Linked DNA regions of Homo sapiens. The protein of the gene in region 1 interacts with the protein of each later gene in a pairwise test. Each region holds a gene or a part of one and is shown in the gene's direction. Other genes may lie near its edges.

Region 1 (2,561 bases):
TCGCCTGTCGGATCATCTATCGGTCAGACGAGCACCACCCTCCCATCCTGCCCCCAAAGGCAGACCTGACCATCGGCCTGCACGGGGAGTGGGTGAGCCAGCGCTGTGAGGTGCGCCCCGAAGTCCTCTTCCTCACCCGCCACTTCATCTTCCATGACAACAACAACACCTGGGAGGGCCACTACTACCACTACTCAGACCCGGTGTGCAAGCACCCCACCTTCTCCATCTACGCCCGGGGCCGCTACAGCCGCGGCGTCCTCTCGTCCAGGGTCATGGGAGGCACCGAGTTCGTGTTCAAAGGTAGGATTCCCATCTCAAGTCCCAGTATCACAGCCAATAAACAGCCCTGTGACATTTTTGTGGAGGCAGAGCTGAGGGAAAGGACCTCTTTTCTGCCTGAGTTCCCAGGAAAGAAATTGGGGAGTCATTTCTGCCTCAGTCCTTCCCAACGCCCTCTGAGTTTCTCCCTGCTCAAAATGGATCAGGTGGACAGCCTCCACTTGCAGGCCTGAATGCGAGAGGAGTCCACGCCACTGCCTGTGGGAAGTTGCCAGCCAGGGAGGATGTTACTGGGAATGAAATCTCTGGCCAGGTGCGGAGGCTCATGCCTGTAATCCCAACACTTTGGGAAACCAAGGCAGGAGGATCTCATGAGGCCAGAAGTTTGAAACCAGCCTGGGCAACATAGTGAGGCCCTAACTCTATAAAAAAATAAAATAAATTAGCTGGATGTGGTGGCATGTGCCTGTAGTCCCAGCTGTTCTGGAGGCTGAGCTAGGAGGATCGCTTGAGCCCAGGAAGTTGAGGCTACAGTAAGATATGATCATGCCACTGTACTCCAGCCTGGGCAACAGAGAAAGACCCTGTCTCTAAAAAACAAAAAAAGAAATCTCAAGTCTGCACTTTGTGTTCTTTATACACAACTCTGGCAGATTCCATGCTGCCCCTCTAATAACACTGCGTTTGCTTGCATGCCACAGTGCTTTCCTGAGTGAGCAATAAAGAGGTGTTAGTGACACCTCAGGTGCTCAGAGCTGTCCTTTCCAACCCTGAGCTTGTCGTGTAATTGAGAGGTTGTCACCTGCTTGGAGGTGGGAGCATCTGTGGGAAGGTTCAGGCTGTGTCCTTATCACTAAACGAGGAGGGGAGGAAGGAGCTGCACCAGGCTGCTAGCAACAAAGCAGGGCTTGTGGTTGCTATTTTTAAAAGGTTGCTTTTTTTTTCCCCCTAAGTTTGAGCATCTTTGTAAAATGGTGTCAGCCCTATCATACCAAATAAAGAGGGATAGCCTCGATCCCAGGTGACTCCTCCAGGATGGCGTTCCAGGGTTCAGTCCCATTACTATAAAAATGTTTCTGTTAACCCAGAAAGTCCTGGAAGACTTTAGCCCTCCTTTTGGGTAGCAAGGTTTGCTCCAGGAATACAGGCCCTTTGAGAAACTTAATTGAAAGCAAGCAATCTTTACTTGACTCCACCCTGAAGCTCATCGTGTTATACACGGAAGTGGCCCCCTGGAGGGACCTTCAGAAGCAATTCTCCACAAAAGCTGGGATTTGTATTTAATTTATTCACTCACATTTTTCTTGCTTGCAGCCTAACTTATTTTAGATGCCTGATGTATGGGCCCATAGGAATGTGTGAGAATGCCAACCAGAATAGGTGTTTGACACCAAAACTTTTAGAAACCCGAAAACCTTTTGATAAAAGCAAAATTCCAGCCTTTGTTGAATATTTTTCTTTCAATCCCAACGAGTCAGCATCACCAAATAAAACTCCTTAGGAGCACTCCGAGCTGTAGTTTTATTTGTTGCCTGCAGGCACTCCCAGCTGTATTCTGGGCTCAGTGTTTCTACACCAGATGGTCTGTGTTGCATGGCCACACCTGCAGCATATCGGTGTGACTGCCACCCAGATCAACAGGTTGAACTCTTCTCCGCCTGACAGTGCTTTGATGACTACTGCTGTCAGATGGGTGGGTCTGTAGGTGGGATTGTTTTTGGAAAAGAAAGCCTTGTCTAGTTAGAGTGTGGCCAGTGTTTTCTGGGTGGGTTTCTGGATCCCACGCCTACTCCCTGGAGTCATGGAACTCTCCTTTCTCCTTTGCAGTGAATCACATGAAGGTCACCCCCATGGATGCGGCCACAGCCTCACTGCTCAACGTCTTCAACGGGAATGAGTGCGGGGCCGAGGGCTCCTGGCAGGTGGGCATCCAGCAGGATGTGACCCACACCAATGGCTGCGTGGCCCTGGGCATCAAACTACCTCACACGGAGTACGAGATCTTCAAAATGGAACAGGATGCCCGGGGGCGCTATCTGCTGTTCAACGGTCAGAGGCCCAGCGACGGGTCCAGCCCAGACAGGCCAGAGAAGAGAGCCACGTCCTACCAGATGCCCTTGGTCCAGTGTGCCTCCTCTTCGCCGAGGGCAGAGGACCTCGCAGAAGACAGTGGAAGCAGCCTGTATGGCCGGGCCCCTGGGAGGCACACCTGGTCCCTGCTGCTGGCTGCACTTGCCTGCCTTGTCCCTCTGCTGCATTGGAACATCCGCAGATAGAAG
Region 2 (3,654 bases), on another chromosome or scaffold:
ACAGGGAGCTCCTGGGCTTCTTCCTCCCAGAGGCCCCCGACGCTCCCACCTGTTGGTCGTCAGAGCTTCTGGTTGGTGGGAAGGCACCCAGGACCTTGAGGTCTCCAGAGAGAAAAGCCAGGGAAAGAGGGAGACCGAAACCCATGTGACATGAAACTCAGGCTCCAAACTGAGCACGGGAACGTTTGGGGACAGGAGCGCGATGGCCTTCCTCAGATAGCTGGGGGGCTGGCATGAAGACGGGAGCTACAGCCAGCACAGGTCCTGGGCCGGGAGCCCAGAGATTGAGCCCTGACTCTGTCACTTACTGGCCACGTGACCTTGGGCGGGTGGCATAGCCTCTTGGAGACTCAGTTTCCTCATTGGTAGGAGTGACGGCCACAGTGGTGCGGCCTCTGCAGCACACGGGGGGCTCGGTGGGCGGAAGCCCCGGGTCTATAAGGCGGCTGTGCAGGAGCCAGCCGAGCTGGTCTCCCAACAGCCAGGGCTCCGGGGTCCTTAGCAGCTGTGGGGGGCCTGCACCTGTTTCCCATGGCTGCTGTCAGAAATTACCAGAAGCCAGGTGGCTGAGAGTAATGGACACTTGTTCTCTCACAGTTCCTGAGGGCTGAAGCCCGAGATCGAGGTGTGGGCAGGGCCCTGCGCCCTCTGAAGGCTCTGAGGGAACCTTTGGGCTTCTGGTGGCTCCAGGCACCCCTTGACTTGTGGTCCTGTCACTCCAGTCTCTCTGTCTGGCTGCACATGGCGTGGCCTCTTCTGTACCATTGAAGGACACTTCAGTTGGATTTAGGGCCTACCCTCACCCATTGTGGTCGTATCTTGATCCTTCATGACATTTGTAAAGACCCTGCTTCCAAATAAGCTCACATTCTGAGGTTCTGGGGTGAGCGGGAATTTGGAGAGCATTGTTCAACTAGTATAGAATGTGACCTGTCAGCCTCGGGCAGCCCTGAGAGGCAGGGGCTTTCCACAGCCCAGCTGGGTGCCCTGGGCTCCGTGCTGTCCGAGGAGACGCCATCCCCACACCCGTCCTTCACCCGCCACCCTCCCGCAGGTACCTGTACTTCACCAACATGCAGGACCGGGCAGCCAAGATCGAACGCGCAGCCCTGGACGGCACCGAGCGCGAGGTCCTCTTCACCACCGGCCTCATCCGCCCTGTGGCCCTGGTGGTGGACAACACACTGGGCAAGCTGTTCTGGGTGGACGCGGACCTGAAGCGCATTGAGAGCTGTGACCTGTCAGGTACGCGCCCCGGGGCCTGCCCTAACCGCAGACACCCGGCCTTCATTGTCAGTAATGGCAGCAGCTGCCACATTGTCCGAGACCTGCCGTGAGCCCAGTGCCGCGCCAGGGGCTTTGTGTGTAGCGTGTTTTGTCCTCACACTGACAGCTGTAGGCTGGGGTTCTGAGTGAGCCCCACAGGGCAGAGGCAGAAAATGAGTCTCAGAGAGGGTGAGCGAGCTGCTTGGGGCCCCACAGCAGGAGATGGAGCAGGACTGCAGCCTAGCCTCTGCCCCCAGCACCTGCGCAAGAAGCTGCTCTGCTCTGGACTGTGTTAGGCTGCGAGGGCTGGAGAGAAATGAGAGTTGGTGCTTAGAGAGGGGGCGCAGGTCCCCATGGCTTTTCCTCTTATGATGAGGTAGATGGGTGAAGGGAGGGGCCATGCTTGCAGGGGCCAGTGACCGAGGCCCGCCGTTGGAACTGATGGCCTTCATCCCGAGCCCAGCCCAGGTGGGAGCAGGGCTTTCCGAGGGCTTGTCTTGGGTCGGCCTGCTTCCAGGGACTCTGCTGCAGCTCCCACCCCTGTCCAAAGCATGGAATCCCCCAGGCTCCCTGGCAGTCCTGTCAACCTCTGTCCTCCCAAGCTGAGTGTGGGGCAAGTTCTGGAGGTCAGCACTGCTCAGGGGGGCCCACGGGCTGCTTGCAGGGGCCAACCGCCTGACCCTGGAGGACGCCAACATCGTGCAGCCTCTGGGCCTGACCATCCTTGGCAAGCATCTCTACTGGATCGACCGCCAGCAGCAGATGATCGAGCGTGTGGAGAAGACCACCGGGGACAAGCGGACTCGCATCCAGGGCCGTGTCGCCCACCTCACTGGCATCCATGCAGTGGAGGAAGTCAGCCTGGAGGAGTTCTGTACGTGGGGGCTGGCAGTGGGGTGGGCAGGGTGGCCTCTAAACCCGACCCCTGGAGGAGGCTGGAGGCCAGTGCAAGATCCTGTGTGGCCTCAGCCAGGCGGTGGTCTCTGCCAGATGCCAACTGTTGCCCGCTGGGGTTCAGCGACATGTCCGAATGTCCCGAGGCCTCTGAGGTTGTTTTCTTTTGCCGCAGAACAAATCACCACGAACAGCGTTTTAAGACAACACCAACTCTTTTTTTTTTTTTTTTTTTGAGTCAGGATCTTGCTCTGTTGCCCAGGCTGGGGTGCCCTGGTGCAAACACAGTTCACTGCAGCCTCGACCTCTGGGCTTAATTAAGTGAACACCTTGCCTCAGCCTCCCAGGTAGCTGGGACTACAGGTGGGCACCACCACACCTGGCTAATTTTTTTTTGTAGAGACGGGGTTTCCCCATGTTGCCCAGGCTGGTCTGCAACTCCTGGGCACAAGCTATCTGCCTGCTGTGGCCTCCCAAAGTGCTAGGATTATAGGTGTGAGCCACTGGCCTGACAACACCCACGGATTGTCTCTCAGTTCTGTAAGGCAAAGTCCAGGCACAGCGTGGCTCACCTGGGTTCTCTGCTCAGGGTCTCACGGGGCCAGAATCAAGGTGTCAGGAACGCTGGGCCCTCAGCGGAGGCTCTGTGGAGAAATTAGCTTCCTTGCTCACTCAGCAGGTAGCAGTTGTGGGATCGAGGTTCTGTTTTCTCTCTGGTTATTGGTCGGGGACCACTCTCAGCTCCTAGAGGCCACCACAGGTCCTTGCCCCGTGGCCCTCTCTGCCTCAGCAGTGGGGGCTCCCTGCGTCAGTCCCTCCCACACCTTGAGTCTCTCTGATTTGCTTCTAAAGGGCCCTGTGATTCGGCTCAGCCACCTTTAGATTAGGTTAGCCTCCCCTTTGATAGACTCCAAGTCGGCTGATTAATAACCTTAATCACATCTGCAGAATCCCTTCTGCCACATAAGGTCATGACGCCGTGCTGGGGACTGGGGTGGGAAATTACGGGGTCATTTAGGATTCTGCCTGCCACTGCCTTGCTGTGTCCCAGGGCTTGGGGGAGGGGCCTCCACAGCTGGGACCACAGTCCTTCCTCCCCTCCATGGTAACCATCTGAGGATTACTTGAGACCAGCCTGGGCAACATGGTGAGAACCCATCCCTACAAAAAATACAAACAAAAAGGGACCAGGCTGGGCTTGGTGGCTCATGCCTATAATCCCAGCACTTTGGGAGACCAAGGTGGGCTGATCACTTGAGGTTGGGAGTTCGAGACCAGCCTGCCCAACATAGTGAAATCCCGTCTCTACTAAAAATACAAAAATTAGCTGGGTGTGGTGGCAGGCGCCTGTATTCCCAGCTACTGGGGAGGCTGAGGTGGGAGAATTACTTGAACCTGGGAGGCGGAAGTTGCAGTGAGCCAAAATTACGCCACTGCACTCCAGCCTAGGCAATAGAGTGAGACTCCGTCTCAAAAAAAAAAAAGGGCCAGGGG

What was found. Proteins that work in one complex are often made in the same cells at the same time.
Region 2: the proteins of APCDD1 (region 1) and LRP5 interact in binary tests that used the Homo sapiens proteins (3 or more experiments, as listed by UniProt).

What each region holds. Positions count from the first base shown.
Region 1 is NC_000018.10:10,485,481-10,488,041, forward strand, and holds part of APCDD1 (protein APCDD1 precursor), read left to right. Parts: coding exon 1-303; intron 304-2,109; coding exon 2,110-2,558; 3' UTR 2,559-2,561. UniProt on the Homo sapiens protein: Negative regulator of the Wnt signaling pathway. Inhibits Wnt signaling in a cell-autonomous manner and functions upstream of beta-catenin. May act via its interaction with Wnt and LRP proteins. May play a role in colorectal tumorigenesis.
Region 2 is NC_000011.10:68,424,048-68,427,701, forward strand, and holds part of LRP5 (low-density lipoprotein receptor-related protein 5 isoform 1 precursor), read left to right. Parts: intron 1-1,054; coding exon 1,055-1,245; intron 1,246-1,930; coding exon 1,931-2,140; intron 2,141-3,654. UniProt on the Homo sapiens protein: Acts as a coreceptor with members of the frizzled family of seven-transmembrane spanning receptors to transduce signal by Wnt proteins.